Linked DNA regions of Homo sapiens. The protein of the gene in region 1 purifies or fractionates together with the protein of each later gene. This does not show direct contact. Each region holds a gene or a part of one and is shown on either strand. Other genes may lie near its edges. The genes, in order: NID1 and EOLA1.

Region 1 (4,532 bases):
CTTTTTCCCCACCATGCCATTTATTTGTTGAAGAGAATGATAATCTTTTAAAGTTAAATCGTGTCAGCCATCTACTTAGAAATCTCTAATGGCCGGGCATGGTGGCTCATGCCTGTAATCCCAACACTTTGGGAGGCCAAGGCGGGCGGATCACCTGAGGTCAGGAGTTAGAGACCAGCCTGACCAACATGGAGAAACCCCGCCTCTACTAAAAATACAAAATTAGCCAGGCATGGTGGTGCGCGCCTGTAATCCCAGCTACTCGGGAGGCTGAGGCAGGAGAATCTCTTGAACCTGGGAGGCGGAGGTTGTGGTGAGCTAAGATTGAGCCACTGTACTCTAGCCTGGGCAACAGAGCAAGACTCTGTCTCAAAAAAAAAAAAAAAAAAAAAAAGAATAACCAAAAACTGATATTTAGCATTTCCTTTAATTATGAATGCAGGCAACAAAGCAGTCACTAATAGAAGTCACAGATATTTTCATATCACATCATAGTTGCTGCATGTGTCTCAGAATATTGCTCATGATCTTCAAAGTTCAATCGTTACCTGAACTGCCCTTGGATCCACTGCTACACCTTGTTATTTAATGTTGTTAAAAGTAAGCATATAGGCCAGGCGTGGTGGCCCACACCTGTAATCCCAGCACTTTGGGAGGCGGAGGTGGGTGAATCACGAGGTCAGGAGTTCAAGACCAGCCTGGTCAACATGGTGAAATCCCGTCTATACTAAAAATGCAAAAATTAGCCAGGCATGGTGGTGCGTGCCTATAGTCCCACCTACTCAGGAGGCTGAGGCAGGAAAATCGCTTGAACCTGGGAGGTGGAGGTTACAGTGAGCCAAGATCTCGCCACTGCACTCCAGCTTGTGCAACAGAGTGAGACTTCATCTCAAAAAAAAAAAAAAAAAAAAAAGTAAGCATATATTGGGCCAGGCATGGTGGCTCATGCCTGTAATCCCAGCACTTTGGGAAGCTGAGGTGGGCAGATCATCTGAGGTCAGGAGTTCAAGACTAGCCTGGCCAACATGGTGAAACCATGTCTCTACTTAAAATACAAAAATTAGCCAAGTGTGGTGGCAGTCATCTGTAATCCCAGCTACTCAGGAGGCTGAGGCAGGAGAATCATTTGAACCCAGGAGGTGGAGGTTGCAGTGAGCTGAGATTGTGCCACTAAACTCCAGGCTGGGGGATAGAGAGAGACTCTGTCTCAAAAAAAAAAATAAATAAATAAATAAATAAATAAAGTAAGCATATAAGCATATATAGTACATAAGAGCATAAGATGTGTGTTTTTTTAATATTTTGATCTGTATTTCAACATAATTGCCTTCCTTGGTCATCTTGTGGATTTTATTTTATGCATTTAAAACTTTATACTGCCCAGCATGGTGACACTCGCCTGTGGTCCCAGCTACTCAGGAGGCTGAGGCCAGAGGACAGCTTGAGCCAAGGAGTTGGAGGCTGCAGTGACCCAAGATCGCACCGCTGCACCCAGCCTGGGCAACAGAGCAAGACCTCGTCTCTCTAAAAACTAAAATAAAAGCGTTATACTGAAAAGGGATCCACAGGCTTCACCAGTGTGCAAAGGGGCCAGGGCAGTCAACCAACATGGGGGAGGGCTCTTTGTGGATCCAGACTTGAAGGGCTCATTCGTTTTAGGCAAAGCCTACAAGTTCCACGTGAGTGTTGTCTAAGGCGCAGTGTTCCCAGGCCAGACCGGGAGCACAGCCATTTCACGGGCAGGACAGGCTGCAGCCGCTGCGTTTGCAGTTCCAACCCCCTTCCCCCGGCCAACCCCCCACACTTCTGGAATGCACACAAGCCTTATATGAAATCCACATGGTGGGCGGCCGAGGAAGGCAGCGGCACGAAAGGACTTCAACAAGTTGACAGCGACCCCAGGCCCGGCCAGTCACGGGGAGGATCCAGGGAGCTGTAGGTCATCTGGTCCCGCTCCTCGTTTGGGGCCTCCGTGGTGACAATGCCTGGCCACAGGAAATGGGATCACTGGGAGCCCTGTGTTTCCCGCTCTGGACTCTGGACTCTGAAACGAGCCCAACTGGAAAGCAGCATCACTGCCAAGACACATCCGGAGTCCACACACAAATACAGGAGGCTGCCGGCGAAACTCTCCCGCAGCCACAAGAGTCCCGGGGCCCGCGCGCAGACTGCGATCCAGCTCCGGCTCTTGCCCTGCGGAGGCTCCGCGCGAGAACCTGGCTCCACCCGGGACCGGCCAGGTCCTAGCCCCGAAGGGACTGGACAGCCGAGGGACGCGGACTGACCTCCCTGCGGCGATGCAGCCCACAGCCGCCGGGGAGGAAGCTCCGCGGGGTCCATGGGTGCCGGGGTCACGGCCCGGGGCGCGCGGAGCCACCCAGACCCCGCGACCCGCTCTTCGGATAGCAGGGACCGGGTCGGGAAGACCTTCGCGGACCCTGCAGAGGCGGGAGACCCTGCGCCGTGCCCGGTGCCCCGGCGGCCAGCGGGTCCGGGTCCCCGCCTGCTACGCCCAAGTCCGTCCGGCTCCACGGGCGCCCCCGGCCCGCCGCGCCCTGCAGCCCCTCGCCCGCCCTCCCGGGGCTCACTCACGTAGACTGCGTCGATGTCGGATCTGTCGTAGAAGCGGAGCGCCCCACTCAGCTCCAGGGCAGGAGAGACGAAGTCATCCCCGTCCTCCAGCTCCAGGTCCCCCTGTCCGGGGCCGAAGGGAAAGAGCTCCTGGCGGCTCAGGCAGCCCACAGGCCCCGCCAGCAGCAGCGGCAGCAGCAGCGCCCGCGTCCACGCAGCCCGGATCCGGCTGCTCGAGGCCAACATGTTCCCGAACTGCGGTCCCGCAAACCCGGTCCCGCGGCCAGGACAGAGGAAGGCGGGGATGTAACCGGACGCCCCTGGCAGCCCCCTCTCCTCCCGCCTCCCGGCGTTCCCACCCCGGGAAATAGGGGAGGGGAGCGGAGGGGAGAGCGGAGGGCCCCGCCCCGTCCAGCGGGCGCGCCGCGGGGCAGCCCAATGGCCGCGAGGGGGAGGGCGAGGGGCGAAGCCGAACCTCCCGCCTTGGGCGCCGGTGCCTGCGATTCTCGAAACCAGCCCGACTCCCAGCGAACGGCGCCTCCGGGAGGGGGAGCAGAGCGCGGGACCCGCACCGTGGTCCTCTGATTAGGGTTGGGTCGTGGAGAGCCGGCGACGTGGAAACGCTCCGGATTCAGGAACGGCGCCCACCCCATTGCCGCTCGGCCGCGTCCGGGGTCCAATTCGCTTGACCCTGGTAGGAAGACGGGGTGGGAGCTGGGAATCAGCCAAGGGACAGAGCCACCAACACGTTCATGGGCTCATCCACCCATTCATTGCGCGTTTTTTGAGTGCCTGATCCTGTGCTCCCTATTGTGGAGGTTCGCCAGGAAACGGGGTCTCACCCTCCGAGGCAAAGTCACCAGTGTACAACACAAGCCAGTGTCAGATGGGGGCCCCAAGTCATCAAAGACATTAGGGCTGGAAAAACTGGCGGGGAAAGCTGCAGGTGGGACGGCGGGAATCAACCCGGGTGCTCTGGAAGGAATGGGATGTCATCAGGCGGCAGAGAAGGGAGGTGGAGGACCGAGCTGGGTTTATTCAGGGCACCATCCCCCAGCAGAGGATGTGGGGAGGGACCGGTTGAAGTACAGCCTTGAATCACAAATTTAGGAATTTGAATTCGCTCTGTCACTCGGAGAAGAAACTATTGAAAGTTCTTGACAAAGGGAGATAAGCGATTTAAGTGGTATCCTGAATAATCGGTTGATCGTTACTTTGGCACTAGGGTGAAAGTAGAGACAGGTAAGTTATTAGAGGACCAAGTCTAAAACATTGAAATGAAAGAAGGAGCAAATCCTGATTATAAGATTGGCATTGAAGAGGAGAAGAAACGAAGTTAAAATTGAGTTCAAGGGTTTGCACTTGGAGGACTGGAAAACCAGTACTGCCTTTTGACGTCAGGGAAGAGGATCTGGGACAGCTGGAGTTGGATATGTTTGATGTCAGACCTATCAGCGGTCAACAGGACGTCCCCGTTTCCTGTCAGCAGCTAAAAGTAACGACCTTGAACCTAGTTTATAATAATTTTTCAGAAAACAGCAAATTCTGTATAAAATTTAGGGGGCATGAGTTCTGAACCAGCAAAGACAGGAAGAAAAAGCAAAGGAAACATGCCTTCTAAGCAAAACACTTTTGATTTACTCATGAGAACTTGTCTTTTTCTTTTGAATTCATTCGCCATCAGAAATAACATTTATTACCCATCAGAGACAGCATGTGTTCTACAAGTATTCATTCATTTTGCACTCACAGTAACCCTAGGAAACAGACCTTCCCTGTTTTACAGAGAAGGGGCATAGAGGCCCAGAGAGGTTAAGTCATGTTGCTAAGGTCATGCAGCTGGGAGCCGGTAAGTGACCCTAGGTGTTCCAGCTGCAAGGACCCCACTTATAACCACTGCATTAAGTGCCCTCTGTTTACTACCTTTTACTGCAGCCTGCAGTCTGTTGTCAAATATGGTG
Region 2 (4,270 bases), on another chromosome or scaffold:
CTCTCTGAACCTTCTGCCCCCACCCCCACCTTTCTCCCTTTATTCCCCACCCCCCCCACCACCCACTCCACTGACTGACCTATCCCCACAAGCACCCATGGCCGGCCTCATGCCAGTCCTGTCTTCATCTTAGTCCATGCTCAGCAGCCCCAGCATGGCTGGGCACACTCCTTCCCTCCTTCTGGGACCCCCACGTTGCTCACCGTCCTGCTCTGAATCCCGTGGTGCAGGCCACCCCCCTTCAGACTCAGCCTTAGGTGGACAGGCCCGTACATACTCAGGACCCCAACCATCACCACCAAGTCCACCTCCCTTCCACCTCTGTGAGTGGCATCACCAGCTACAGCGTTCCTGCCCCAGACCTAGCTGCTCTCTGCCCTGCCTTTCTTTCCCACATCTGCGGCCCACATCCCGTGGCACTGTGTCCAAAACCGACATTGAATCTGATCCCTTTCCATAATCTCTATGGCCACAATCCCAATCCAATCCCCTAAAACCCCCTGCCTTCTGAAGAAGTCTCCTGATAGCACCCCCACCCCCCCCCAGCACTTGTCCTCTGCACTCTTGTGACCACACTGCCATCGGAATGATCTTGGTACAGGGACAATGAGATTATGTCACTCCTCTACTGAAACTTTTCAAGGGCTCCCTGCCCCAACTAGCACAGAATCCACACTTCCTCTCAGGGCACTCAAGGTCCCTCCTGATCTGGTTTCCCACCCCAGCCACGTCCTCTCCTCTCCCCTTTATTCACCACCCTGAAGCCACACAGGCCTTCCATCCCCTGAGGGAACATGCCAAGCTTGTTTCTACCTCAGAGCCTTTGTCAGTTGTGATGGGTTGCATTGTGTCCTCTTAAAATGCGTATGTTGAAGTCCTAAACCCCAGCACCTCAAAATGTGGCCTTATATATAAAAACAGAGTCATTACAGAGGCAATCAAGTGAGACTGAAGCCATCAGGGCGGACCCGCATCCAATGTGGCTGGCGTCCTTATGAAAAGGGGGATTTGAGAGACAGTCACGCACACAGGGAGAACACCATGAGAAGATAAACGCAGAGATAAGGGAGATGCTTCTACAAGCTAATGAGTGCCAAAGATTGCCGGCCAGCCGCCTGCAGCTAAGAGAAAGGGACAGACCAGATTGTCTTTCACAGCCCACAGAACAAACGAACCTGGCCACCACTTTGATTTCAGACTTCCATCCTCCAGAACTGCGAGACAATGATTGTCTGTTCTTTAAGCCAGCCCTTTTATGGTCCTTTGTTTCAGCCATCTTGGCAAACTGCTGTTCCCAACACATCTGCACAGGCTAGGGCACGAGTTTGCCATTTGACAGCACATCAAGCCCATTCTTTCCACCTGACAATCTTCATCTACCTTGTTTTTCACTGCCTGGGTGATATCCCATTGTTGGTCGTCTCATAATTTGCCTGACCATTCCTCCACTGATGGAGAGTTACAAGTTGCTTCCCACTTTTGCCACTAGAAATGACATTACCTCTAACACTCGCTGTGTGAAGACATGCTGAAGGAAATGCCTCGGCCGCCTGGCACGCCCATCTAAGATGCTGATATCTGCCAGCAAATGACTTTCCACAAAGACTCACCCGTGTACCCTCCACCAACCCATCCATGGTGCCATTTCCTCACACACTTGTGGCCCCTGAGCATGATTATTCTTCTGATGAGTGACCAAAGATAACCAGGTTCCTTGGTTCTGGATTACTTCTGATGGAGGCTGAATGTCCCCCACAGGGCCTGGCCACTTCCATCGGGATAAATGGCTACAGTGAATGTTTGCCTCTTTTCTGCCGCCCAGTTTCTTAGCCAACCCTTTTCTCGTCATCACCACAAAATCACAACAGACGCCAACTGTGTGTATGTGGAATCCCTAGTAGGAACTGATGTAACTGAAAAGGCAAGAAGGGGGTTGAGTCCCCTCCTACCTGGTGCTGCAGAGAGTACCTGCTTTACGGCCAGAGGAGGAAACACTCTTCCACTTAGCTTCTTTACCTGCACAACAAGGAAGATAAAGAGGAAAGGTCATTAAGTGCAAGACAGCAAAGCTGGTTAATGGCCCTAAGAAGGTCATGTACTTAGCAGGCATTGGAAACCAAGAAGAGCTGGGAGGCCTGGTCTTATCAGTAACACACATGTGCACATCACAGTTTGGTTCTGCTAATCACAGCAGTGGGACCCTCCGCACCTGTCTGGGTCAAGGACCACAGGGTGCACCAGCCCGCAGGGCAGAAAATCATTTCACCATGTTGAGCAGCATTCTTGCAGCCAAGCATGCTCCATTCGAAGGGAGAAAAATGACACTTCCCCTCCCATTGTCACGGGGCGAGTGTTTGGGACTCTAAATCCCATTGTCCTCAGCTTAATTCTGGGTAGGTCACGCTGAGCACGGCGCCACAGGCCACAGAGCTGTGCACCGCCCGGCCTCAGGTCCAGGCGAGCTCACAGCAGAAGGGCCAACGGGAGGCAGGGAAGACCGGACTGAGGTGGGGCCGCTGTGTGTGGAGCAGTACACGGGCTTTCTACTCGCAGACGCACGTCGCGGGTACACGCGCTTAGAAGGAGCGGAGCCGAGACCCTGCCGACAGCAGGGGACAGGAAAAGGCGCCTCGGTCGCGCCCCGCACGAGTTCCCAGCCCCACATCCAGGGAAACCCCAGCCCTCAGGTACCGTCCGCAAGAAGGCTGAGCACACAGGCTCCCGCAGCATGGGCCCTGGCACCTGTCAGCCCCGGCAGGTCTCACGGCCTCCGGAACCATGGACCCTGCGAGTCGTGGGTGTCTAGGGCCGACTCCGGCTTTTCGCCACAGGAATGAACAGTCCTCTGCTTCCCCGAGACCCAGCGAGGCCACCGGAGCCAGGACGATGGGCTCCCAAGCAAGGAGACGTGGGCCGCTGTGAGAAGAGGGAGCGCCTGGCTAGTGTCCAGGCTGCAAGGTCGTTGCCGCTAACTCCGGGAAACCAGTGGCCAGTGACAGGTGTTAGCGGTCTATAACTCTTCCGCTTTCATACAGCTCCCGTCATCCCTTTCACGAAGAACGTACGTGGGCGCGCAATCACGCATGTATGCACACCACGCACGTACGCGGGAGGCACGTACTCAGCCATGCATATAGACAGCAAACATTATGAATCTCGCATTCTCGAAGACACGCACTGACGACATCACGCACGTACGCACGCCCTGGCTGCTAGGAGACGCTATTCTCTTTACCTGGCCCTGATGCGCGCCAGCCAACCAGGCCAAGGCCAGGGGACCTCGAGACCGGCAGCCTCGACGAAGAACCGGAAGGAGGAAAAGGAACGGGAGGGAGGAAGAGTAAGTGGAAGGGTGGGACGAGGACACCAGGCAGGAGTTTTGGGCCCAGAGCTGCTATACCAGCAGGGAGGAGCTGGGAGAAACCGCTGGGGAGGGGGTGGAGGCGGGGCTGAGAGGAGGAGGGCGGAGCTGGGGGAGGGGCCGAGCGGGACTGACAGAAACAATTGGGGGCTGGGTTGAGGGCGGGGCTGAGATAAGAGGCGGGGTGTGGGGCAGGGCCGGGCGGGGCTGAGAGAAACCATTGTGGGCAGGGCCGTGGGAGAGCTGAGCGAGGAGAAGCTGCAGGAAGAGCTCGCGGACTCTTGAGAATCAGCAGGGGGAGGCAGGTGTCCGCTGAGAGAAGGAGGGAGGGGGAGAAAGAAATCACTGGGAGGGGCTGGGGGCGGGGTTTTTAAAGCAGCTGCGTGAGAAGTAGGGCGGGGCTGGGAGAGGCGGGGCTCTGGGGGGGCTGAGAATGCTGGGGAAGGTTTGGGGGCGGGGCTTTGGAGGCAGCCACAGGAGAAGCAGGTCGGGGCTGCGGGCGGGGCTCGGGGTGGGGCGGGGCTGAGAGAAACTGCTGGGGAGGGGGCCGAGGGCGGGGCTTTGGGAGCAGCCGCGGGAGAAGCGGGGCGGGGCAGGGAGGGGAGGGGCGGGGCAGGGAGGGGCGGGGCTGAGAGAAACTGCTGGCTGAGGTCGGGGCTTTGGAAGCAGCCCCGCGAAGAGCAGGGCGGGGCAATGGGAGAACTGAGCGAGGAGCAGCTGCGGGAGGACCCCTCGGACTCCTGAGAACCAGCTTAGGGGAGCGGGGGCTTGGGGAGGTGTAGGGTGGAATCACGAGAAAGCTCTGTGGGAGGGCCTGGTGCACAGCTCAGCTGCAGCGTGGAGCTGAGGGAAAGCCGGGCGTTCCTGGAGGAGGAGCAGGGCGGGGCTGTGGCAAAGAGGTGTGGGAGC

The links.
Region 2: the proteins of NID1 (region 1) and EOLA1 purify together in Homo sapiens (co-immunoprecipitation; one large-scale study listed by IntAct). This does not show direct contact.

The regions. Positions count from the first base shown.
Region 1 is NC_000001.11:236,062,263-236,066,794, forward strand, and holds the start of NID1 (nidogen-1 precursor), read right to left. Parts: upstream 2,829-4,532; 5' UTR 2,818-2,828; coding exon 2,593-2,817; intron 1-2,592. UniProt on the Homo sapiens protein: Sulfated glycoprotein widely distributed in basement membranes and tightly associated with laminin. Also binds to collagen IV and perlecan. It probably has a role in cell-extracellular matrix interactions.
Region 2 is NC_000023.11:149,539,765-149,544,034, reverse strand, and holds the start of EOLA1 (protein EOLA1), read right to left. Parts: upstream 3,024-4,270; 5' UTR 2,731-3,023; coding exon of another isoform or gene 2,692-2,730; exon of another isoform or gene 2,298-2,691; coding exon of another isoform or gene 2,210-2,297; intron 2,017-2,209; coding exon of another isoform or gene 1,950-2,016; intron 474-1,949; exon of another isoform or gene 1-473. UniProt on the Homo sapiens protein: May play a role in cell protection during the inflammatory response. In epithelial cells, negatively regulates IL6 production and apoptosis through the regulation of MT2A expression.